4 linked regions of the Homo sapiens genome follow. The protein of the gene in region 2 purifies or fractionates together with the protein of the main gene of each other region. This does not show direct contact. Each region holds a gene or a part of one and is shown on either strand. Other genes may lie near its edges.

Evidence for each region.
Region 1: the proteins of KLHDC3 (region 2) and MOCS1 purify together in Homo sapiens (affinity purification with mass spectrometry; 4 studies listed by BioGRID and IntAct, with this or other methods). This does not show direct contact.
Region 3: the proteins of KLHDC3 (region 2) and USP10 purify together in Homo sapiens (affinity purification with mass spectrometry; 3 studies listed by BioGRID and IntAct, with this or other methods). This does not show direct contact.
Region 4: the proteins of KLHDC3 (region 2) and SYMPK purify together in Homo sapiens (affinity purification with mass spectrometry; 4 studies listed by BioGRID and IntAct, with this or other methods). This does not show direct contact.

The regions. Positions count from the first base shown.
Region 1 is NC_000006.12:39,910,456-39,917,486, reverse strand, and holds part of MOCS1 (molybdenum cofactor biosynthesis protein 1), read left to right. Parts: intron 1-1,254; coding exon 1,255-1,419; intron 1,420-3,651; coding exon 3,652-3,713; intron 3,714-4,058; coding exon 4,059-4,170; intron 4,171-4,482; coding exon 4,483-4,595; intron 4,596-5,112; coding exon 5,113-5,223; intron 5,224-7,031. UniProt on the Homo sapiens protein: Isoform MOCS1A and isoform MOCS1B probably form a complex that catalyzes the conversion of 5'-GTP to cyclic pyranopterin monophosphate (cPMP).
Region 2 is NC_000006.12:43,017,238-43,021,814, reverse strand, and holds the end of KLHDC3 (kelch domain-containing protein 3), read right to left. Parts: coding exon 4,469-4,577; intron 4,297-4,468; coding exon 4,120-4,296; intron 3,963-4,119; coding exon 3,847-3,962; intron 3,671-3,846; coding exon 3,599-3,670; intron 3,473-3,598; coding exon 3,259-3,472; intron 3,183-3,258; coding exon 3,096-3,182; intron 2,953-3,095; coding exon 2,844-2,952; intron 2,724-2,843; coding exon 2,650-2,723; intron 2,528-2,649; coding exon 2,449-2,527; intron 1,149-2,448; coding exon 1,082-1,148; 3' UTR 521-1,081; downstream 1-520. Other genes in the region: RRP36 (ribosomal RNA processing protein 36 homolog), read right to left, coding at 31-160. UniProt on the Homo sapiens protein: Substrate-recognition component of a Cul2-RING (CRL2) E3 ubiquitin-protein ligase complex of the DesCEND (destruction via C-end degrons) pathway, which recognizes a C-degron located at the extreme C terminus of target proteins, leading to their ubiquitination and degradation.
Region 3 is NC_000016.10:84,695,959-84,702,999, forward strand, and holds the start of USP10 (ubiquitin carboxyl-terminal hydrolase 10), read left to right. Parts: upstream 1-4,041; 5' UTR 4,042-4,117; coding exon of another isoform or gene 4,118-4,132; coding exon 4,133-4,153; intron 4,154-7,041. UniProt on the Homo sapiens protein: Hydrolase that can remove conjugated ubiquitin from target proteins such as p53/TP53, RPS2/us5, RPS3/us3, RPS10/eS10, BECN1, SNX3 and CFTR.
Region 4 is NC_000019.10:45,846,136-45,853,166, reverse strand, and holds part of SYMPK (symplekin), read left to right. Parts: intron 1-631; coding exon 632-685; intron 686-781; coding exon 782-855; intron 856-4,290; coding exon 4,291-4,417; intron 4,418-5,165; coding exon 5,166-5,415; intron 5,416-7,031. UniProt on the Homo sapiens protein: Scaffold protein that functions as a component of a multimolecular complex involved in histone mRNA 3'-end processing. Specific component of the tight junction (TJ) plaque, but might not be an exclusively junctional component. May have a house-keeping rule.

The sequences.
Region 1 (7,031 bases), 3.1 Mb from region 2:
GACTCAGGCCTTGCCCCCGAAATGGTTTGGCTGTGTCCCCACCCAAATCTCTTCTTGAATTGTAGTTCCCATAATCCCCACGTGTCATGGGAGGGACCCAGTAGGAGGTAATTTAATAATGGGGGTGGTTACCCTCATGCTGTTCTCATGATAGTGAGTTTTGACGAGATCTGATGATTTTTATAAGGGGCTTTTCCTGTTTTGCTCAACATTTCTTGCTGCTGCCATGTGAAGAAGGACGTGTTTGCTTCCTCTTCTGCCATGATTGTAAGTTTCCTGAGGCCTCCCTAACCATGCTGAACTGTGAGTCAATGAAACCTCTTTTCTTTATAAATTACCCAGTCTCAGGTATTTCTTTATTAGCAGCATGAGAAGGAACTAATACAGCCCCATGGCTGGCTTAAGTGTCTGCACTGGTGCTTTATCCTTGAGGCAAATGCTTCTGCTGCCTTCCCGTGCCGACAGGGAAGGATGAGGCCAACCTGTCCAGCTCCTTCAAATATAACTCCCCTCTTAGACAACCTCCCTGACATGTAGTAGGACCCCTCTGCTCCTGTACATGTGACTACTAAGCTGCGTGCACACTAGTCACTCCCTGTTTTTACAGAACCTTCTCCTGGGTGCACTTTGAGCTGTGGTCTCTATCCGTCTGGTCGGTTCCATCTGCTTTCTCTCTTTCAGTACTAATTTACCTTTCTGGGCTATCTACGGCATTCTTTCTTACCTTCCAATGCTATTATGGATTTTTAAAATCCTTCCATTATTTCTAGGGATATTTGGTAGAATGGAGCTGTCAAATAGCACTTAATTCAAACACTTTTGTTTCCATTATACAGAGTATCAAGACCTGTGTAGTACTTGGTTGTTAAGAGCAGAGTCCTGAGTCAAGTACACATGGATTTAAATGCCAGCTCTTCTTACTGTGTGAGATTAAGCAATTTTCATAATCTTTCAGAGCACCTCTTTCCTTACCTACTAAATGAGATAATTGTTATTGTGAGGCTTCAATGAGCTAATGTATGCAAAGCCCTCAGCAGAGCACCTAGCACAGAGCACTCAATGCTTAATCTTTTGGTTGTTTTTGTCAGTTTTGATTCTTAGCTTTCTTTTTAAGTTAGGCCTGGTTAATATAGGTCTGCAGAGAGCCTCTTTTCCATCCATCTTGTCTGGACAAAGAGTTTTGCCTTCCAGCCCTTTTCCCGGCCTCACCAAGAACAAGCAAGCAGTCTGACCCCCTTTCTGTTGTCCTTACAGCCCAGCTCCAGCGGCTGGAAGGGCTGAGAACCATAGGTGTTACCACCAATGGCATCAACCTGGCCCGGCTACTGCCCCAGCTTCAGAAGGCTGGTCTCAGTGCCATCAACATCAGCCTGGACACCCTGGTGCCTGCCAAGTTTGAGTTCATTGTCCGCAGGAAAGGTGAGCGGATGTGGATGGGGTGGGTGTCCCTCCCAGGGCCTGCACATAGCTGGGGAGGGCATGGCCATTGCTGAGCCAGGGGCCTGGTCACTTCCTCTTGGTGTCTGGGCTATCAGTAAGTCAAAGCACTTATTTCTCACCCCTCATCTTTGCCAAATGTATGTCAGGGACTTTGGGGGTCAGACGCTAATGACCTAGGGTGACCAACCTCCCCACCACCCCAGCCCCAGTTTGCCCAGGACTTGAGGGGGTTTTAGAATGAAGGACTTGAAGTTTTAAAACCAAGACAGTCTGTGGCAAACTGGGCCGAGTTGGTCATTCTACGATGAGCTCTGAAGAAACACGGGACAGCCCAGGGTGGAAGTAGCCACCCTGGGATGCCAGGGTCTGGGTGTATGCTGCCAGGAGGGGGTCCCCCAGCAGGCCCCCATGGTTATCCCTGTGCCCACCTGGGTATAAGCCCCTCCTATGCACCTCCTACTACAGGCACAGCCATACCCTCCACTCACCTGCCTCAGGAGGCCCAAGGTAGACAGGTGGAGCCAGCCTCGAGCTCTGGGTCACAGGAGACCAGTGCCTGGCTTCCCTTTGGCATGGACCTCATGTTGGGGCAAAGGCTCTTCAGGTTGGGATACCCTTTGATATTTGGGAGGGGGTACATGACTGAGGACTCTGGAGGATCAGAGGGGTGGCAGGGAGACCCAGATCTCCTTCCTCTTCCTTGGAAACAGCTTCAAGATCAGCCCCACCACCTTCTTTCCTTCCTTTTCTTAAACGGGGTGTGATGCCTTGCTTAATACCCTCCATGTGCTGAGGAAGCACTCATGGTGTCTCTTTCCTCTATGGAGGCCTGCTCCAGGTGCTGTGGAGGGGACAGAAGACACATAAGACATTGCCCTGTCCTTACAGGCTGCTAAGGGCCAAAAGATGTCATTCCATGGGACAGCCTTTGCTTGTCTTGTGGTACTGATTAAAGAGTTACAGAGAGGAAGAAAGAACTCTTAGCAGGAGAGAACTAGGAGGGCTTCAAGGAGGATGCATGCATGCTGGCCTTGAGGAACTGGAGGGTTTCAATCAATGGCACATACTCTGAGGGGGAGCAGGAGTACAGAACCTGCAAGGGCTCTACGGTGGGAAAGTGGGAGGTGGATCTGTGGGCTGTACTGCCCGCAAACACGTTCTCCCTTTTTGTCTCTTATTTCCTGGCACATGGATTGGAGACATCAGATCTTCCCTCCCATTCATACTCTTTTGTCCACCACCTGCCTTTGGAGGGGAGTGTTTTACAGAAAAGAAAACTTATAGTTCTAGGTTATCCTAGCAGCATTATTTTTTTCAAAGCTATACATTTTTCCCTTTACCCTCTCACTGAGCAGTCTGAAAATGCTGCAAGGAAACCATGGAGGCCATCTCTAGGCACCCTGTCTCACAGGTGACCACCCAGGCTGTGCAGGCTGGGGGTGCTGGAGGGGGCCAGGATGCAGTAGGTGATCAAGTGATTGGATGCATGAGAGAACTGGGCAGTGAGAAGTCAGCCTGGGGTCACATTGACTGTGGTTAATGATTGTTGAGACAATAATTGCTTACCAGCCCTGGAACAGCACCTGTGCGTAGTAGGTGCTCAGAGAGTATGTGTTGAGTGAATAATTGATGGACTGTTGAGGAAAAAACACTGAAACGGGAGTGGAAAACCTGCATTCTGAAAGATGGAGCCATGGGGCTTTGAGCAGAGCATTGCCTCACTCTGGGTCTTGGTTTCCTCCCGTAGACTACAAGAGGGTTCAACTAGATCCAGGGTCAGCATGCTATGGCCCACAGGCCACATCTAGCCCCCTGCCTGTTTTCATGTAGCCTTTGAGCCAAGAATGCATTTTACAGATAGCATTCAAAATCAGTTAATGATAGGGAACATTAACTATGAACCCCATTTAAGCAAAATATTGTCCCTGCAAAAAGAATCGCATTATTGTATCCCATTTGTAGATCTGTTTTACAAGACACTGTAGTCAGTTATTACTATTACATTTTGAATTTAGCCAACACTTTGTGACATGTACTTACACGGATCCTCAATTTTGCCTCTTGGCTTGCAAAGCCTACGATATTACTCTGGCCTGTTTTAGAAAACGTTTGCCAATCTCCAGACTAGATGGGCTCTGGTGCTTTTCTGTGGGGGTGTGGGGGAAGAGGAGAGAGGACAGAAGTTCCTGGATCCTTGTTTCTCCCTCCCAGGCTTCCACAAGGTCATGGAGGGCATCCACAAGGCCATCGAGCTGGGCTACAACCCTGTGAAGGTGAGGCCGTGCCCCTGCCGTAGATTCCCGACTTCCCTCCACACTGCCCTGGCCTTCCCCTCACCGCCCCTTGGCCCACTTGAGAGCCCTCAGCTCTGGCCAGCATGGCTGAAGTACGTGCACCCTTCCACCTCTTCTCTCCCTGCTGGTCCAGCCCTGCCGACCCTTGAGAGAAACGAGAAAATCAGTGACCCCAAGGAATCCCGTAACTTAGAGAACTGAGTGGGAGAAGCAAGGAATGGGTCCCTGAGTGGAAGGCCTCAGTGAGTGCCAGGCCCCCAAGGGTCATCTCCACAAAAGAATGCAGGGGGCACAGCCCTCATGGTCCCATTGTTCCCCGGCCAGGTGAACTGTGTGGTGATGCGAGGCCTTAACGAGGATGAACTCCTGGACTTTGCGGCCTTGACTGAGGGCCTCCCCCTGGATGTGCGCTTCATAGAGTATATGCCCTTTGATGGTCAGTGACCAGGGATGGGTTGAGGGAGGGAAGAAGGGGTTGGGCCTGCAGGTCGCATAGTGTGGCTCACCCACTGGGTATGGCTGACCTCAGGGGCAGTGAGTCTAGGATTATGATGGGCTGTTGGTGGCTTCTCGGAGCCCGCTGTGGATGTGATTCAATCCACCAGTTTTAGGCAGAGCCCCCGTCCCTCCCTTCCAAGAGGCTGGAGAACTGATTGCTATGCTGTGGCAGGGGATGGACTCAAAGACCCCGGGGCCCCTTCAACTGTGATTCAGAAGCTCCCCTTGCCTTCCCCCATCCCGAATACAGGCAACAAGTGGAACTTCAAGAAGATGGTCAGCTATAAGGAGATGCTAGACACTGTCCGGCAGCAGTGGCCAGAGCTGGAGAAGGTGCCAGAGGAGGAATCCAGCACAGCCAAGGTTAGGGAGCAGGAGGGTGTGGGGCAGGCCTGGAGGAAGGTCGTACCTCCACCCTAGGATGGAGAGCTAGCAGGGAGCTGCACTGTGGTGGGGATGCTGTGATGTGGGATGGTACCATTTAAGCAGGAAGCATCAGTGCTATCACAACCACCTCCCTGTTTCATGGATGAAGATGTGGGCTCGGCTAGGGTGGGGGGCTCAGTAACATGTCAGAGGACACACTCCAGGAAGTGGCAGAGAGGGGTGCTCATCCCGCTTCCACGCAGACTTTTCTAAACATGCTGCCCACAGGTCCCTGCCTTAGCAGCTTTTATCTAGGGCAAGCCAGGCATAGGTCAACCCATGGGTCATCCATCCTACCAGAGTCTTCTATCACCTGAGGGCCTTGGGTGGAGCTTCACGTGGGGTCCTCTGGGAGAGGGTTGAGGAGTGGAGGTTCTGATGTCATGGAGTGAGAAACTGGGCTCAGTAGCCCATCCCCTCCACTGCCCTTTTGCTCCCACTCTCCCCTGCCCAGGCCTTTAAAATCCCTGGCTTCCAAGGCCAGATCAGCTTCATCACATCCATGTCTGAGCATTTCTGTGGGACCTGCAACCGCCTGCGAATCACAGCTGATGGGAACCTCAAGGTGAGCATCCCCTCCTCCACAGGGACCCCTTGCCACCTCTGTGTTCTCATGTCTCCTCCCACCTGTGCTCCCTGATTGGAGAGGAGGCTGGCAGGGCACGGTGTCGGGGGAGGTGGTTGGTGCAATAATGTCAGGTTTGGGGGCATGATGGGAGCAGCAGGTGAGGGTGAACTCATGGCCCCTCTGGAAATGTCACCCTGATTCCTTCCTTCCTTCTGTGGGGCCCTGAAGTAGCTTCTGGTTTATTGGGAGCTCCTTTCCAGCTCTCATGGAGCTGCAGGATCAATGTGCATTTTGCCTGGCCCCCGCCATGGTTAGCCCCTTCCACCAGGCCAGGGGCTCAGCTCTGAAACCAGAAATGGATGTTACTCATATCTAACAAGCATGTCCTGTGCATTCGTCCCTGTGGGGGATGTCGGGACCCCTTCTCGTCAGGGCTATGCAGACTCACAGGCAAGACCAAACAGAGGCAATGTGTGGCAGCACGAGAGTCCTTGCCACACGCGTGGCTAGATAGCCTGTGAGAGTGCAGGGCATCAAGAGCACTACAGACCTCAGCGAGCCTTGAAGAATGGGTGGGGCAGAAGTGGGGAGGGGAGGGTGCATACATAGGGTTCATACTGGTTGGGCGGGCTAGGGCAGATTAAAGTCAGCTATGGGAAGACTACATTGTAGGGGGCTTTGGTTCAGAATGTGTTCTGTGGACAATAGTGTGCTGCGTAAGGTTCCTGAACAGGGGAGACATCCCCCATGTATGTTTTATAAGCCACAGGCTGGGTGTGATGGCAGGAAGACCAATTAGGTGGCCATTCAGTGGTTCTCCAAATATGTTAGAGTGTGAATTGAAGGGAAGGAAGACTCAGAGAGCTTGGTAATGTTCGCGGAAGGAGAGGAGGAAGGCATCAAGGTAGCTGGAAGGCCTTGGGATCTTTTACAATTGTGGGAGGGTGATGATGGTGGGTTGGGTTTAGATGCATGCAGTTTGAATCCAAAAGGAACCATCCAGCAGGTTGCTGAAAAGCTTGGGGGTTTTTCTGGGCTGGAGATACGGAATTGACTTGGACTAGAGGTGGTATCTGTATCTGTGAGGTCTTGGCAGGAAATGGAAGGTGGGATTCTGAAGAGAATGTAATGAAGAAGCTATTTATAACATATAAGATTAAGGGAACCAATAAAGGATATTGAGGTACTTGGGACCAGCAGCAGCAAAGTGCTGTTCCCACTTAGGAAGGGCAAGGGGGAGGCACTGATGTCACTGGGGCCCAGGAAGGGCTGGAGCCTTAGAAGAGAGGCCACCTCATTGGCACTTGAGCTGTGCAGAGAAGCAGCTGCTGCCAGATACATCAAAGCAGGGAGGAAGTAGGGGAGAAATGCCTGAAGATTGTTCTTTCCCTTTACCCATTGATCTCCCAGGCAGGAGCCAGCTGGGGGGCGGGAGGGGAGGGTGGTACCAGGTGAAGTCCACAGGAGGAACCTCTTTGTTGCAGAGAAGGGAACCTGGAGGCTGGTTGGGGAGCGAGGCATGAGGAATAACAGGCACGCTGAAGCAGTTAGACCTATCCTAGATTTCACTGGTATCTTCTCCAGTGGTCTCTGCCTGCAGAAGCTTCTCAGACATTCTTCTTTCTCTGTGGCCACAGTGCCTTGTGCAGAGCTGGCACAGAGTAGATGCTTCATAAGTTTTGGTGGAAGGATGGTAGGTATATTGATTTCTGGGGCTGTCTCATCCATCCCTCTTACAGAAGCTGAGAAGCATTGAGTGAAGTTTGACCTTAAGTTGTCATGCCCAGCAGCCCTCAGCTGAAGCT
Region 2 (4,577 bases):
TCCCCAGCCCGCCCTGCCCCATGCCCTCACCCCTCAATAGGTCGCGGGCCACGGCCGCGGGCTCCAGGCCCCCGCCGTCCTCCTCGCGGTCCCGGGCCCCGCGGGGACGTCGGGCCCCGGCCCCGGCCCCGGCCCCGGCGCGGTAGTTAGCTCCCGGCATCAGCTGGCAGTAGCGCTCGGAAGACGAATGGCGCCGCTTCCGCTCACGGCAGCCCCTGCCCCGCCTCTTCCGGCGTTCCCGGTCTCAACGTGGTGACGAATGGGCAGAAAACTGCGCGGTCGAGGGCCAGGGAGCCGGGCCCAAAGGATAACCCGCTCTGGAGACATTGTCGCAACCTTCTGCCCGAGTCGCAGGGTGCTGGGTTCCACGCCCGAGAAGCTTGGACCAGGCCTTGGTGGCATTTGGTTTCCTAATACCCTTGGCTGAGAAGCCAGAACCTCAGGGTGCTTGTCCTCGGCACCCTGCCCCCACTGCAAACTCCAGCCTTCTCCACCATATTCCACAAAAACACACAACACGTTTGGAGATTTTAATTAATTTTTATAAAATCTGAGCTGGCTGAACTTCAGAGTACAGCGACAGCTCAAGGAAGGGTGGGATTTATCTGCTGGTCCCCACCTCCCCAAGACGGGGAGAAGGAGGTCTCATGCCAACAGCTGCAACTCCTTTCAGCTCCCAGTCAAGGCTCAAGGCTCAAGCAGAGGGGAGGGGATAGGCAAAGGGGGAGGGGGAAGCTCCTGAGGCTCAGACACTGCTTGCTTCTCCCTTCTCCCCATTCCCTTCCCTTCCCAGCAGAACCTGGCTGGCCCTGGGCAGAGCTGAGGCCCAGGAGCAGCTGAAAGGAGGTGGATGGGGACAGAGCACCAAGGGGAAGGGGCCCTCGGCCCAAGGGGGGAGGAACCTAGCCCCCACCCCGCTACAGCTCCCCACTGAATTCACAGCACAGAGAACACCTCTCGCCCAACAACTCCACATGGAGGTATACCAAGTCCAGGGGTCAAAGGAGCAGGTGGGTGACAGATGGGCAGGGGCAGTGAAGATGACAGCAGGCTCAGGAGGGGAGGTGGCAGAAACTTCCTCCTACCCATGGGAGGAGACGATGGGGCGACTGATATTGCTGTTGGTGGTCATGGCATTCAGCTCCCACCTGGAAGGCCAACAATAAGAGACAGAAAGAAGAGGGGGCCCTCAGCCCAAGCTAAGGGATGTTTGAACCAAGCTAAAAACACACCAGTCTCTCCAACTTCCTAAAGGTCAACCACCCACAGCCACCTCTTACTTAAGAGACCTACTAGGTTGAACAATCAGAACCCACCCACCACCAAATCCAACACCACCCACTCCTCTACCTCCAAGCTCATATGGATTTCCGGTTTATGTTTATGTATGTATGTATATTGCAGTGTCCAGGCACCTGAGATCTGTGTATACATGTCAGTCAACATCCCAACCTGCCTTTCCTGCTTTGCTTAGAGCCAACCAGGCAGCCCCTCCACCTTACCCTCACCAGGAATGCCTCACCCCACCAGGAATACCCATTTTTGCTCTTAACTCCCATCCTTTTAAGGCTCTGACTCAGCACTCCTATCCTTCCTGAGGCCTTCCCCACCCACCCAACCATATTAATTTTTTTTTTGAGTCTTGTTCTGTCACCTAGGCTGGAGTACAGTGGTGCAGTGGCACAATCTTGACTCACTGAAACCCCCGCCTCCCGGGTTCAAGCAATTCTCTTGCCTCAACCTCCCAAGTAGCTGGGACTACTGGTGGCTGCCACTATGCCCAGCTAATTTTTGTATTTTTAGTATAGACAGGGCTTCACCATGTGGCCAGGATGGTCTCGAACTCCTGACCTCAACTGATTTGCCCACCTCAACCTCCCGAAGTGATGGGATTACAGGTATGAGCCACCATGCCCAGCCAGCAAGAGTTAAACTGAACTGATACAAAGAGACGAAGTATCTCAGAATGACCCAGACAGGAAAAATTATATACAAAGTAACATCTGGTGGTTAATTTGAACCTGAAAAATTATACATAAAGTAACATCTGGTGGTTAATTGGAACCTAAGAACGAAATTCAAAGGGAAGCAGCCAGATCTTCTGGAACCAATGTGATCCAGAGGCTCCTAAACTTGTCTTTACTTTGCAGCTAGGTTCTAAGATTTAATCAGTTGTTCTCAGCATGGTCACAAAAATAACTGTATAAGCTTAGGTCTCAGAAAGTGATGCTGCCGAGCTGTATTTTTTTTTCATATAATTTATTCTGCTGACAGTTTTATATGATGGCTGTCAATTCACCTCCTTCCATCTCATTTCCCACAAGTACACTACATCTCCAGCAGAACAAAAATGTCTGTCTCCTCCATACTGAAACCAAGCTAATCAGGTCACACCTGTGCTGCTCACTCACCCTCACTCAATCCCTCCCTTCCAACCACTCGCTGTACCTGATATCATGAGGCAAACAGGACTGGTCTAGGTTATACTGAATCACGGCCAGTTTGCACAGAGTCTTCAGACTAGGGCCTTTAAGGGAGAAGTTGTGGAAAGGAGATGGTCAAAGGTGAGGAAAGGATCCAGTCCTGGATATCACCACCCAAAGACAGGGACCTTGATGGCAGGAGCAATTCAGGAATAACTATACTTACTAAAGTCCAAAATGTGTAAGTCAGAATGATCTATAAGGTCAAATTCATCTCCCAGGCCTTCCTCAGGAGATGGACTGTCGGGATCAAAAGAGAGATGAAAGTAGGACAAAAACTACCCACGAAACCCCCTTTTCAAATACCTCCCACTCTCCCATTAGTGACTTCCCTGAGCCCCTTCCCTCTCTCCTTCTAACCTGGTACCCCCAAAGAGGACAATCTTGTCACCAACAATACAGCAGCACTGGCGCCGGCGGGGACATGGCCCCTTCCCCTTCGGTTCAATCTTTTTCCAGGTAAAGGACACTGAAGAGAAATTTATATGGAAGTTCAATACCTGCCTAGTCCAGGTATCTTCCCCACCCCCATCCCTCACCGCCTCAGGATTATTTTCTTTTCCTCCCACCTCAATTGCTCCTTGTTCCTGCCCTAAATGCAGTGCTCTTTACCAGGATTAAACTTCCAGAGGTCATGGAAGTGCCGGTTCAGCCTTGCATTATAACCACCAAAGATGTACAGCTCCCCATTGTAGCCAACTGGAAGGAGAGAGGAAGTGTCAGGAGTGTGAAGAGGGCAGGAAGGGAACTCCACAGGGAAGTAACAAACACTCACAGGCCGAGTGGCTCCGGCGCCCCTCAGGCAGCACTGGAGTCGGGGGACAGTCCAGCCAAGCCTCAGTTCTGGTGTCAAAGACTCGAATGCGGTTGCAGTAAATCTCATTGTTGGAATGGAATGGCCCAAAGCGGTCGGCACGGCCCCCAAAGACATACATGTGACTTCCCAGCATTGTGGCTGAGTGGAAGTCCCTCCAGCGTGCAGGGCTGCCCTGGGCAGAGGCAGAGAGATGGTGGAGGGGTCAGCACAAAGACTGGAAGAGGATCTCCTCTGACTGAGCTTCCTATCATTGCTTCAACAGAGGGTGGGGATTTGGGAAAAAAAAGAAAGAGCAGACCTTTGTACAGATAAGAGTCCATGTCATGGTGCTGGTATCTAGCTTGTGAATGTCATTGGAAAAACAGTCCGCCTGAGTAGGAAGAGAAAAGGAGGAAGAAAAGAGGGAGCCAATGGTCACTCTCTGACCCTCCATCCCTCCCCTCAAAACCTGCAAACAAGCCAAAGCCTCCCATTTCACCATCCTAAATTGCCCTTCCCCTCTTTCTCAGTCCCACCCTAAACCTCTTATTTTATTCCCAGACCTACCTGCTGCTCGTAGCCCCCAAAAATGTACATGATCTTGCCTAGGACACAGGCTGAATGTCCATCCCGGGCCCCAGGAACTGTCCCTGACACTCGGGGTGTGAACCACTTGTGCGTATCTGAAGGAGATGAGAAAATGGCTCAACTAAGCACCCTCTATGACAGTCCCTCCTCAGCTCTGGGGTACTCTACTCCCCAAGACCCCCAACCCAAACCTTTCTTGGGCAACTGAGGCAACATCTGGAAGGACATAGCCTCTCTGAGATCCATACTCACTGACGTCAAAGGCATAGAGCACATTGCAGGCCCCTTCGGTGTCATTCCGCCCGCCCCAAAGGAGGACTGTGTCGTCGATGAGGACGGTTGAGTGTCCATAGCGCATGTAGGGTACCACAGGAGCTTGCCCACGGATGGCAGACTTCACCGGGGGCAGCTTTGTCCAACGCAAGGACACTGTGGGCACAGCTCTGCTCAGCCCTGGGAACCTCCCTCCAGGCTGTCCACTTTTCCCAAACCAGATGTTTGTCCCCAATCCCCTTGGTCCCAGAGACCACAGCCAAACCTCATCAGCAGCCCGTTCCCACCCTGATGTGGGGACCCAGGGACAGCCCCAGCATTGGCTTACCTGCATTGAAAATGTGCACATCTATCTGACGCAGTGTCTCATAGTCTTCACCAGAGCAGTAACCCCCGAAGGAGTATACCCGATGCCCGACAGCCACTGCAGCATGGTT
Region 3 (7,041 bases), on a different chromosome or scaffold from region 2:
TCCTTGGCTCGTGGCACCAGCAGCGCAGCATCTTCAAATCTCTCCCTCTCTCTTTCTGCTTCTATTTTCACATCTCCTTGTGACCTGACTCTCTTGCCCCTCCTTCTTTCCCTCATAAGGACCCTTGTGATTACTTGGGACCCACCAGTCATGTCATAATTAGGTTATTTCCCAGGATAATCCATCTCAAAGCCTTTAACATTACCACATTTGCAATGTTCCTTTTACCATGTAAAGTAATATATCCACAGGTTCTGAGGTTGGGGCATGGACATCTTTGAGGGGAGGGGCATTATTCTGCCCATCACACCACCTTCTACAAAAGATTCACAGAAAATGTAGGTAACTTGCCCAGGTTCACACAGCTAGTGAGTGGGGGATTCCAGATTTGAACTTGGGCCTGTCTTGACTCCAGGCCTAGGCCACTGTCCCCAGACTCATGGGAGATACCAGGTGTATTAGTCGGTTGTCATGCTGCTAATAAAGACATACATACCCAAGCTAGGTAATTTATAAAGCAAAGAGGTTTAATTGACTCACAGTTCCACATGGCAAGGGAGGCCTCACAATCATGGCGGAAGGCAAATGAGGAGCAAAGTCACGCTTAACATGGCGGCAGGCAAGAGAGCTTGTGCAGGGGAACTCTCATTTGTAAAACCATTAGAGGCTGGGCGTGGTGGCTCACGCCTGTATTCCCAGCACTTTGGGAGGCTGACGTGGGCAGATCACTTGAGGTCAGGAGTTCAAGACCAGCCTGGCCATCATGGTGAAACCCCATCTCTACTAAAAATACGAAAATTAGCCGGGCGTGGTGTCACATGCCTGTAGTCCCAGCTACTCCAGAAGCTGAGGCAGGAGAATCACTTGAACCCAGAAGGCGGAGGTTACGGTGAGCTGAGATCCTGCCACTGCACTCCAGCCTGGGCGACAGAGCAAGACTGTCTCAAAAACAAAAACAAAAACAAAAACAAAAAAACAACCAAACAAACCAAAAAAACCACACACACACACACACACACACACACACACACAAACATTAGATCTTGTGAGACTTACTCACTACCATGAGAACAGTATGGGGAAAACCACGCCAATGATTCAATTATCACCACGTGGCCCCACTCTTGACACGTGGGGATTATTACAATCCAAGATGAGATTTGGGTGGGGACACAGCCGAAGTATATCACCAGGCTCTGCTAAGCACTGAAGGCCATAGTGCTTGTTCATAGCTTCCTTTTAACATCTATTTCCTTGTACTGAAGGTATGTGTTCATATCTATGTGAATTATTTGAAAATGAAGACTGGGATCTTTTTTATTTATTTATTTATATATTTATTTATTTGTGAGACAAAGTCTCACTTTTGTCCCCCAGGCTGGAGTGAGATGGTGTGATCTCAGCTCACTGCAACCTCCGCCTCCCGGGTTCAAGCAATTTTCCTGCCTAGGCCCCCCAGGTAGCTGGGATTACAGGTGCCCGCCACCATGCCCAGCTAATTTTTGTATTTTTAGTAGAGACGGGGTTTCACCATGTTGGCCAGGCTAGTCTCGAACTTTTGACCTCAGGTGATCCACCCGCCTCAGCCTCCCAAAGTGCTGGGATTACAGGCGTGAGCCACCGTGCCTGGCCTGGGATCTTTTGTTTATTATCACTTTTATTTGTTGTTCAAGCAACTGTATGATAAAAATCAGACAAACAACTATATATATATATATATATATATATATATATATATATATATATATATGTTTTTTTTTTTTTTTTTTTTTGAGACAGAGTTTCACTCTTGTTGTCCAGGCTGGAGTGCAATGGTGCCATCTCGGCTCACTGCAACCTCTGCCTCCCGGGTTCAAGCGATTCTTCTGCCTCAGCCTCCTGAGTAGCTGGGATTACAGGCGCCTGCCACCACGCCCGACTAATTTTTGTATTTTTAGTAGAGACGGGGCTTCACCATGTTGATCAGGCTGGTCTTGAACTCCCGACCTCAGGTGATCCACCCACCTCAGCCTTCCAAAGTGCTGAGATTACAGGTGTGAGCCACCGCACCGAGCCAGAGAGACAACCATAAATCACTAGTGAGTTTTCACGTCCCCCAGTTTCTATCCAAGTGCAGATATCGCTTTTCCATGGTTAAAATTATAGCACAGACACTATATTGTATTGTTTTCCCCAATTTTTTGTTATAAAAATTTTCAAACATAGAGAAAAGCTGAAATATATAGCACTACTTAGAGCCAACAATAGTAAACATTTTGCCATATTTGCTGTCTCTCCCTGAATGTTTATGTGTGTACATGATTTTATCTTTTGTTGAACCATTAAACAATAGTTTACAGGCATTATGGCCTTCACTCCTCAACTCTTCAGAATGCATCTCCTCACAATAAGGACATTCTCTCAGTGAGCACAGTATAATTATTACACTATAAAATTACCAATAATTCACGAAGATCACCCATATCCAATCCATATTCAAATGTCTCCAATTGTCAACAAATAGTAAAACCAGCTTAAAAGACATATCAGGATCCAAGCAAGATGACACATTGTATTTGGTTATGTTTTCTAGCTCTTCTATTTTGGAACAACCCCTCCCTACCACTTATATTTTTCTTTTCTTTTCTTTCTTTCTTTCTTTCTTTTTTTTTTTTTGAGACAGAGACTCGCTCTGTCACCCAGGCTGGAGTGCAGTGGCACGATCTCGGCTCACCGCAACCTCCGTCTCCGGGGTTCAAGTGATCCTCCCACCTCAGCCTCCTGAGTAGCTGGGACGCCTGGTGTGCCACACTACATCCCACCAATTTTTGTATTTTTAGTAGAGTTGGGGTTTCATCATATTAGCCAGGCTGGTCTCCAACTCCTGACTTCAAGTGATCCGCCCGCCTCGGCCTCCCAATGTGTGGGATTCCGGGTGTGAGCCGCTGCGCCTGGCCCACTTATATTTTTCATGGCATCCCATTTATGAAGAGACCAGGCTCCCTATTTTATGTAACGTGGGAATGGATCTTCCTGTTCATCTCCTCTGCTCAGTGTACGGTCTAGCAAGAGCAGACTCTCTGTAGGTGTTTGTTGAATAAATGAAACCAATAGTAATGGTTATTAATAACAATCCCAGTAGCCAATTTTTATTGACTATTCTCTTGGCCAGTGTGCTCACGTTAATCTAATTTGAACCTCACAGAAATCTTACGCGTTATGACATATTTGTCTTATTCACAGGTGAGGAAACCAAGGCTTAGGGAAGGAAAGTCGCTTGTCTGAAATCACAGCTAGAAAAGGGGCCAAAACCCAAGGGTGGACCCACTGGCTGGAAAACAGTGCAGTTAGGCAGGGGCCCCTGTTTCTTAATAATGAATGAACCAACGACCCCCAAGGCTGGTTTGCCCGTGCACACGCACGCACGTGTGCAACACGTAGCACTTGCTGAGTGTTTGCTACTTGCCAGGCCTCATGTCAAGCACTTTACGCGTGCTTTTATGCCCTACGTTTTGTTTTTGTCTGTTTTGCTTTTTTCCCCTAATGCCTAGCCAAAGGCGTGGCCCAGGCGCCCAGGCAGGACTTGGGGAGTGAATGAAGAGTGAACAAATGAATGAATGCGCGGCAACGGGATCTTCATAAACCAGACCCTCCTCGGGGATCTAATGCGAACACTCCCGAGGCCCGGGCCCAGGTACGCTGAGGGCGGCTCGTGGGCCCCAGGCCGACCTCAGCCCGCGACTCCCGGGCTCCGGGGGCCCAGGTGGCCCCCAGTAGGTGAGGAGCCGGGCCCGCCGGCGCCTTGGCGTTGCCACCTCTACCTGCCTGCCCTCTCCCCTTCCGGATCCACAGCCAGGCCTCGGCGGGCTCCTGGTGTGCAGCCGCCCGGCCGCTTCCGCCCGAGGGTCGCGGGGCTCAGAGTCCGGCAGGCTCCAGGCGGGGCAGGGGATGTCCGCGGCCCGGCAGGCGCACGCCCACCTGTCGGCCGCGCAGGCGCAGCAGCGGGCCGGCCTCCCCGCGCCCCGCGGCGCGCGGCCAGTGCGCAGGCGCGGCGGCCGATGCGAGTGTGTATGTGCGGGCGAGAAGATGGCGGCGGCGGGGGAAGCAGCGTGAGCAGCCGGAGGATCGCGGAGTCCCAATGAAACGGGCAGCCATGGCCCTCCACAGCCCGCAGGTAGCCGCCGGTCTGCGCCTTCGGCCGGAAGGGGCCCGAGCCCCGGGCGGGCGGACGCCGCGGCGGGCGGGCGTCCGCGCCCTGCCCGGAGCGAGCGTGTGGGAGTGGGGGAGGGCGCTGGGACACGCTGCCCGGGCCTAGGCCGGAGCCACCCGCCGCCTCCGCGCCCGCCGCGCCTTCGTCCCCTGAGCCACCCGGACCCCCTAGTCCCGGGGAGGTCGAAGGGCGGGGGCTCCGGGCCCCGCTTGGGGAGGGCGTGGAGGGCGCCGAAGGGGTTAACCTCCCTGGGGCTGGACCGCGGGGCGAGCCCGGGGTGTGGAGTGGGGCCCTCCCCGCCGCGCCGGCCGGGGGAGGCGGCCCGGGGGCTCCGGGAGTCCCCTGGAGCGCAGGGGCCCCAGAGCAGCTCAGGTTGCTGCCTCTGCCTGGAGCGAGCCTCAGAGATTTGGGGGTGCCCTGTTGCCCCTTTGCCCCAAGAGCTTCCTTTCTCAGCTTGATTGATGATGCGGGGGTTGCCGATTTTCTGTTTTTTAGATAGAAGTAGCAGAGTAGCGGCCTTGGGCTGCTGTTGCAAAGAAAACTCGAAATAAGTCGCAAGGACCGTACTTTCACTTGCGTTTGAGTGACATCCCTTGCACGAATCCATCCCAGCCAGGCTGACAACTAACGCACCCTGCCTGAACAGTAGCTAAAGCTTGGGGGCCCTTTACAATAATCCCGTGGTGGAAAGAAAGAGCTCTTTTTGGGAGATGTGCGTGTAGAGTTAAGCTCTTATTCCCCTCTCCCACCCCTTCTCTCACATCTTCTCCCCCCTCCGCCATTATAATTATTCTGGACAAAAATCGGCATGATGTATTATTTGTCAGCCTTGCTTTAGACTGCTAATTTGTTGACATCTGGTCCCTATAAATTGTTGCACACTTTTAAACCATCTCATTGTGTATTTGTATTAAATATGGGGAAATGAAACAAAGTAGCCATTCGGGAAACTGATTGCGAGTAAAATCATAACCCTTCATGAGCAATTGGGTTTTGTTGCCCTTCTGCAGATGAAGTCAATCTGACTACACCTCTTTTGAAACATGATTTTCGGAACTATTGTAATGAATGCGTGTTGTGGAATCTAAAATGCGAAAACTTTTTAAAAAATTAGATCTTACGACAAGCTTCAATTTTGTTAAATTAGCTGTAGTTTAGTTTGCATCAGAATTTCCCCCTTTAACGTTTTGTTCCCTTATTCATTTACTTTTGTAAGTAGTGTAGGTCTTTGCGCCAAAAAAGGGATCAGTAGTTGAATAATTTTTACAAATGTATAGCCCAAAGATTTTAAGAGATTTGGTGTATTTAGCTTTGTTTAGACCTTTCTGTTAAAAAAAAAGATTTGATATTTGCTTTTTTCTCAACTTAAATCCTAATTAACTAGCTTATTAGAATTGGTATGAACAAGTAAAAGGCTCATTATGAATTAATGTGTAATATTCCTTGTGATTTTGACATGAAGAAAGCATCTTTAGGCATAGCTCACTTCCTTTATTTAATAAGCATCAATCACAATTCAAGGTTGATTGAAATGTTAATTAATGGGGATGGATAATATGTAAACTTAATTGTAATTTCGTTTGCATTCATTGTCCCAGTATTTACGTTTTATACAACAGTCTAAAGCGTTATACACATCTTTAGAAAATTGGAGTAGCAAAAGTTGGCGGAACGTAAATGTTAGCAACACTTTGGGTTTATTCTTTTAAAGTATGATTTAAATGCTTTTAAGTTTTAGCATGGAGAAAGTAGCAAAGGAAATAGTTTGATTTCTCATAATTTTCTTCTTCTTTTTTTTTTTTTTTTTGAGTTGGAATTTGGCTCTTGTTGCCCAGGCTGGAGTGCTGTGGTTATTAACCTATAAACTTTTTTATTTATTTTGAGATGGAGTTTCGCTCTTTTTTTTTTTTTTTTTTTTTTTTTTTTGAGACGGGAGTCTTGCTCTGTCGCCCAGGCTGGAGTGCAGTGGCATGATCTCGGCCCACTGCAACCTCTGCCTCCCGGGTTCAAGCGATTCTCCTGCCTCAGCCTCCCAAGTAGCTGGGATTACAGGCGCCCACCACCATGCCTGGCTAATTTTTTGTATTTTTATTAAAGACGGGTTTCACCATGTTGATCAGGCTGGTCTCAAACTCCTGAGCTCAGGTGATCCACCCGCCTCGGCCTCTCAAAGTGCTGGGATTATAGGCGTGAGCCACTACTGCGCCTGGCCGATTTCTCATAATTTTCATTTTAAAAGAATAGTAATGCAAACAAGTAATGGAATCATGTATGACAGGATTTAGTTACTGGTTCCTGCTCCAGTCATTCTGAGCGTTTTAATAAATTTGTTTTACTTGGTTGCCTACTGTCCTAAGAGTCTTGCAGCCTTAATGGCCATTCATTCATTCAGCAAATACTGATTGTTTATCAGATATTAAGCGTCATGGTATGTATATTACTTGTTTATGTTGGGAATAACAACTGCAAATTGAAGGTCTTATTTTAAAATTGACTTGTTAAAGTTAAATTTGTCACTGAGAATAATGGGAGGTGGAAAAAGTTACAGTTTAAAAATGTTTACAGGCCAGCGCGGTGGCTCGTGCCTGTAATCCCAGCACTTTGGGAGGCGCAGGTGGGTGGATCACTTGAGGTCAGGGGTTCGAGATCAGCCTGACCAATATAGTGAGACCCTGTCTCTACTAAAAATACAAAAATTAGCCGAGTGTGGTGAAGCTCGCCTGTAGTCCCAGGTACTTGGGAGGCTGAGGCAGGAGAATCGCTTGAACCCGGGAGGCGGAGGTTGCAGTGAGCCGAGATCATGCCACTGCACTCCAGCCTGGGCGACAGAGCAAGACTCCCGTCTCAAAAAA
Region 4 (7,031 bases), on a different chromosome or scaffold from region 2:
ACCTCCGAGGTGGAGTGGATGCACCTGGTGCCTCCCCCATGGGTGGTCATGAGGCCGTTTAGCAATAGTAGCTTGAGTTGTAGCAGCCAGGTCCTGTGCCAGCTCTTTGCTTATTGGAGGATGTCCATGGGAAGGGCTTACTCCAAAGAGCCTGGCAGGCACAAGGGCTTCAGGAATTGGGTTCTCACTGTGAAGATGTTTGCTGAATCATGGCAATGTGAAGTAGGGAGCAGAAGCAGAAGGAGAGTGGGGAGAACTGATGGACAGGTGAATGGAGGCCAAACCTCAGGAAGGCCTGAGCCTTGGGGCACTTTCCTCTTTTTTTCAGCCCCCTCCTGTGTCATGTCCTCACTATCTACCAGGACCTGTGCCTTGTAGGATCTCATTGTAGCCTCCTAACATCCCTTTTGAGTTGATGTTTAAGAGTCTCATTTTATAGAAGAGCAAACTGAGGTTCAGAGACCATGCCCAGAGCATAGCACCCTTGGTAGGGAGAAGCAGAGCCAGGCATTGAAATGAGTGTATCTGCTGCCTAGCCCTCTGCTGTCTTCCCCTCTACTCTCCTGTCTGCATTGATTGGCCCCTCGTTTTATATGGGTATTCCTCCTCCCCACCCCCAATCTCCTTCCAGGTCCAGGAGCTGATCATCAACAAAGACCCCACACTACTGGACAACTTCCTGGATGTGAGTGACTGACAGAAGAGAAAGGGGTGTGGTGTAGGGGAAAGGGGATGTGGATCCTTGTGTAGCCCTGATCCACTTTCTCTCTAACATTGGCAGGAGATCATCGCATTCCAAGCAGACAAGTCAATCGAAGTGCGAAAATTTGTCATCGGCTTCATCGAGGAGGCATGGTATGGGGCGAGGCACGGAGCCCCGGGAGCATTCTCACTGGTGGCAGCCTTCAGCTCGTGGCCTGGCCTGGAGGCCACCACTGAGAGGCCTGCCCTCTGCTTCCCAGACCCTTTCTCTCTCTCATACACACTGATTCCCCAGCAAATACTTAATAAGATGGAAACCCTGGGGTCATCTGTGATTCCTCTGCTTCTTCCACACTTCACATCTACATTATCACTAAGGACTGTGGGCTCCACTTTGAGAATATCTGTAGCATCTGACCGTTTGTCAATCACTTCCTCTGCCACTATGCAGGCCCAAGCCACCCTTTCCTCCTACCTGATGACTTCAGTGGTCTCTCTCTGGCTCCCTTCTTTTTCTTTTTAGTTAAATTGAAATTCATATAACAAAATTAGCTTTTTTTTTTAATCTTTTGTTTGTTTGTTTGTTTTGAGACGGAGTCTCGCTCAACTGTTGTCCAGGCTTGAGTGCAGTGGCGCAATCTCGGCTCACTGCAACCTCCGACTTCCGGGTTCAAGCTATTCTCCTGCCTCAGCCTCCCAAGTAGCTGGGATTACAGGCATGCGCCACCACATCCGGCTTATTTTTGTATTTTTAGTAGAGAAGGGGTTTTGCAATGTTGGCCAGGCTGGTCTCAAACTCCTGACCTCAGGTGATCTGCCCGCCTTGGCCTCCCAAAGTGTTGGGATTACAGGTGTGAGTCACTGTGCCTGGCCTTTTTTTTTTTTTTGAGACTGAGTTTTGCTCTGTTGTCCAGGCTGGAGTACAGTGGCGCAATCTTGGCTCATTACAACCTCCACCTCCCAGGCTCAAGAGATTCTTGTGCCTCAGCCTCCTTGAATAGCTGGGATTACAGGTGCGTGCCACCATGCCTGGCTAATTTTTGTATTTTTAGTAGAGATGGGGTTTCTGCCATGTTGGCCAGGCCAGTCTTGAACTCCTGACCTCAAGTGATTGGCCCACCTTGGCCTCCCAAAGTGCGGGGATTACAGGCATGAGCCACGACGCCCAGCAAAAATCAGCTATTTTAAAGTGAACAAGTGAGTGGCATTTAGCACGTTCACAATCTCGTTCCAGGGCATTTCATCCCCCAAAGAGGAATCACCGCACTCATTTCCCGCTTCCACTCTTGCACTCAGCAGCCAGAGTGACGCTGTTAAATGTAAATCAGTCTTGGCACACCCCTGCTCTCAGACCCCAGCTGGCTCATCAGCTTACTTAGGTGGAAACCCAAACTCTCACTTCGGCTTCATCTCACTTCTGATCCTCTCTGTCTCCCCTGCTCCTCAGAAGTCACAGTTGGATTTCGCAGCCTGTCTGCTTGCTGTTCCTGCTAGGGGCCCTCGTCCCCAGGTTGCCACCTGGCTCTCCCCTCCCTTCCCTCAGGTCTCTTCCTCAGAAATTCCTTCCTGCCCGCTCCCATGCAGCCCCATGTCTCAGGCACCCCACCTTCACTGTTCTTTACAGTGTTCCTCACTCATTGAAATAACCTTGATTCTTCCCGCAAAATATCAGCTCTGTGAGGACGGGGCTTGACTTTTTCTGTCTTGCTGGCCACTTTGTCCCCAGTACCTGCCTGGAGCAGTGTTGTCACCTAGTAGGGGCTGACTACGTATTTGTTGCACACGTGAATGAGTTGAACATAACAGTCACCACATGGAACACGTACTGTGCCCTGCGCTGTGTCAGGTCCTTTCCCGTGTTATCTCCGTAATTATGGCAGCCTCGATGGATACTGTGGTTATCCTCTTTTTACAGAAAGGGAAACAGGCTCAGAATGGTCAAGTGACTTGTTCAAGCTGGTCACTTGCTCATTTGTTTATTAAAGCTTTACTGGATGCTTTGTGACTGGGAGGAAGTAGACTAGCTACTGTGTATTAAATATTTGTTTGTAAGGCACTGTATTAAATGCTTGAGCAGCTTCATTATTCGTAATACTATGGATCAGTTGTTTGACCCTTTAACTGAAGAGAAAACAGTCTCAGAGAGGTGAAGTGAATTTTCTTAAGGTCACACAGCCAGAATGTGGCAAGGCTGGGATTTTATTTATTTATTATTTTTTTGAGATGGAATCTCACTCTGTCGGCCAGACTGGGGTGCAGTGGTGCAATCTCGGCTGACTACAACCTCTGCCTCCTGAGTCAAGTGATTGTCCTCCCTCAGCCCCCCCGAGTATCTGGGATTACAGGTGCCTGCCACCACACCCAGCTAATTTTGTTTTCTGTTGTTGTTTTTTTTTGTTTTTGTTTTTGTTTTTGTTTTGAGATGGAGTTTCGCTCTTGTTGCCCAGGCTGGAGTGCAATGGTGCGATCTCGGCTAACTGCAACCTCCACCACACAGGTTCAAGTGATTCTCCTGCCTCAGCCTCCCAAGTAGCTGGAGTTACAGGTGCCCGCCACCATGCCCGGCCAATTTTGTATTTTTAGTAGAGATGGGGTTTCACCACGTTGGTCAAGCTGGTCTCAAACTCCTGACCTCAGGTGACCCACCTGCCTCAGCCTCCCAAAGTGCTGGGATTACAGGCGTGAGCCACTGCGCCTGGCCAAGGCTGGGATTTTAACTCATGTCTGCAATGCCAGAACCCAAATATCCTATCTCCCCATTTACTGGGAGAATTTGTGGTAAATTTTCTGAATTTGTAAAAAGTCCATTCAGCAAATACATACCATGTGACTGCTGTCGTACCAGGCATCCATGTTAGGCTGTAGTATAGCAGTGAGCAAAAACGTATTATTCCTGCCTTCATGTAGCTGACAGCTAAGTTTCATATTTTTTGACTGATTTAATTAATATTTCAGATTGTAATGTATGCTGTGAAAATTCTGTGCTGAGCTCCTATTTATTCATTGAACATTTGTTGGAGGCCCTTCATTTTTTTCTTCAATGAAAATGACCCTGCTGGGGTTATTGCCAAGCTAGGAAAGGGTCCCTACTTTTTGAGCCCTCAGACTGAGGCAAGCAAAACTAGTGATTACAGAAAACAAAGTGCTTTAAAGTAGCAATGGCTGGTGTTTACCGAATGCTTTTTGGTGTTTACTGAATGCTTTCTGCATGTCAGGCACTCTTCTAAGCACTTTACAAGTATTGTTGCAATTTTCCCAAAAAATTGCATAAACAATTGGATAGATACTATTATTCTAAATGAGGTGAAGTCGCTTGTCCAAATTCACACAGTTGTCTGCCCCTACTGTCCCTTATGTGAACAGCAGGGCCCTGAGAGAGCAAAGGAGTTGGTGTTACAGGACCAGTCTAGATAGAGGGTTCAGGGGCGGCTCAGTCTGGAGGCACCAAGCACTGTTCCCAGCTTCTGGATGTGCCATTCCGGTCCCCTGAGACAGGTCCCTGATTTCCCTTCCCTCCTGGACCTCAGGCTCCTCCTACTTGCTCTAAGACCACACCTTGACCTCGCCCCTTTTTTCTCCATCCCTCAGCAAGCGAGACATTGAGTTGCTGCTGAAACTCATTGCAAACCTCAACATGCTCTTGAGGGACGAGAATGTGAACGTGGTGAAGAAGGCTATCCTCACCATGACCCAGCTCTACAAGGTGGCCCTGCAGGTGAGAGCGCCCTCCCCACCCAGGGCCATCCTGCCTGATATGTCTCGTTGACAAACTAATATGTTGGGGTTCAAAACCAGCATCCGAGCATACTCTTTATGGGCAAGATGTGCCACTGGTCTGTGGGAACAGATAACATGGAGAGCTAACGTTGTCTCCTAGGTCAGGAAGTTGCACTTAACCTTCATTCCTTCCATTGACCATCCGTTTATTCACTCAACAGACATTCCCTGAGTATGTCCTCTGTGCTTAGCCCTGGGCTAGGTGATGCTGGGGACACAGCAGTGACCAAGACAGCTTACTGCCTTCACAGTGCTCATAACCCAAGGAGGGAGGTAGACCTTAATTAATGAATCACATAAATATTGATTATGGAGTGTGATAGGAAAAGAACACTCTATGGTGTGATGTACATTAGCATTAATAAAACGAATGAATCCATTTAATCACCACCACCTTGTGAAGTCAGCACTGTTAGTCCTTTACCCTGAAGATGTGTGCCTTCATCACACTGAGTGGTCACTCTCTGCATCCCCATGAGGGCAGGGCGAGGCCTGGCCACTACTCAGTCCTGTCTCCAGCATCACCGAGCACTGGGCTGGGGCAGAGTTGGAACTCAGTAACTGTTAACCAAATGAATGTATTCATCATTCATGGTTCTCTGGGTATTGGCAGAGGGTGTTGGTGATTGATGCGTTGTCTTCACCTCTTTGTGTGTCTCTTCCATTCCTTCCTGGCCTGCTGGCAGTGGATGGTAAAGTCACGGGTCATTAGCGAGCTACAGGAGGCCTGCTGGGACATGGTATCTGCCATGGCGGGGGACATCATCCTGCTATTGGACTCTGACAATGACGGCATCCGCACCCACGCCATCAAGTTTGTGGAGGGCCTCATTGTCACCCTGTCACCCCGCATGGCTGACTCAGAGATACCCCGACGCCAGGAGCATGATATCAGCCTGGACCGCATCCCTCGTGACCACCCCTACATCCAGTACAGTGAGTACTGCCTTCAGCTGCCACCCCTGACAGCCCTGCACCAGTTTCCTCTCCTTCACGCCCCTCCCTCTCTCCCCCTTGTCTTTTTTGGTTTTAAATTTCTGGAACAGTGTGTGCAGTAGTTAAGATCCCTGGTGCTAGGTTCAGATCCCAGCTGCACTGCTTACTCATCATGAACTTGGGCAAGTTACCTGTCTCTGTACTTCATTTTCTTTTTTGTAAATTGGAGACGATAACATAGTACCACTCTCACAGGTTTGTAGTGAAGTTCCATGAGTGTGAGCCAGTCGATGCTAGCTAGTTTTATGGTTTTCTTTTTTTTTTTTTTGAGATGGAGTCTTCCTCTGTCGCCCAGGCTGGAGTGCAATGGCACAATCTCAGCTCACTGCAACCTCCGCCTTCCGGGTTCAAGAGATTCTTCTGCCTCAGCCTCCAAAGTAGCTGGGGCTACAGGCTCCCGCCACCATACCTGGCCAATTTTTTTAAAAATTATTTTTAGTAGAAGCAGGGTTTCACCATATTGGCCAAGCTGGTATCGAACTCCTGACCTTGTGATCCGCCCGCCTTGGCCTCCCAAAGTGCTGGGATTACGGGCTTGAGCCACCGCGCCGGGCAGTTTTACAGTTTTCTTAACTGCAAATTATAAAAGTAGGACATAGGCCAGGTGTGGTGGCTCATGCTTATAGTCCCAGCATTTTGAGAGGCCAAGGCAGGCAGATCACTTGGGGTCAGGAGTTCGAGACCACCCTGGCCAACATGGTGAAACCCCTTATCTACTGAAAATACAAAAATTAGCCGGGCATGGTGGCGGGCACCTGTAATCCCAGCTACTTGGGAGGCTGAGGCACGAGAATCGCTTGAACCCAGGAGGCAGAGGTTGCAGTGAGCTGAGACTGTGCCACTGCACTCCAGCCTGGGTGACAGAATGAGACTGTCTCAAAAAAAAAAAAAGTACTATATATACACTTGGTGTCAAGCAATATGGGTGAATCAAAAGGAATAATGTCCCCTCCCTCAGTCCTGCTTTCCAGAGATAAACACTGTTAAGAGTATTATGTTTCCTTTCAGATCTTTCCTGTGCACATGTAGGTATTTGTATGTGTATATGCATAGTGTCTGCATTTGTTTGCTTTTCTGTTTGCAAAAATGAGGCCATGCTTTGTGTTTTCATCTCAGAGACATTATAGTAGCTTGTGTCTGACACACAGCCTATTTTCCCTTGTCTCTGAGCCTGATTCCTCATTGGTAAATTGGGGATCGTTATTATGGCATCTAATTTAGGATGTAGGTATGAGCATTTGGTGTATTAATATGGCTGGAATAGTAAACATTCCATAAATATTAACTATTCTTATGTATTGTTTGACAGCCTTTTTGACTTAATAGTATCAGTGACGTCCTTCCCTGTGAGAATCATATAGTTGCTATACCATATTCCATAGTATAGTTACATTACATTCTATTAAGCAATGCTCTGTTGATGGTCATTTAGATTTTTAATTCACTTTTATTTTTTGAGACGGAGTCTCGCTCTTTCACCCAGGCTGGAGTGCAGTAGCGCTATCTCGGCTCACTGCATGCTCCGCCTCCCGTGTTCACGCCATTCTCCTGCCTCA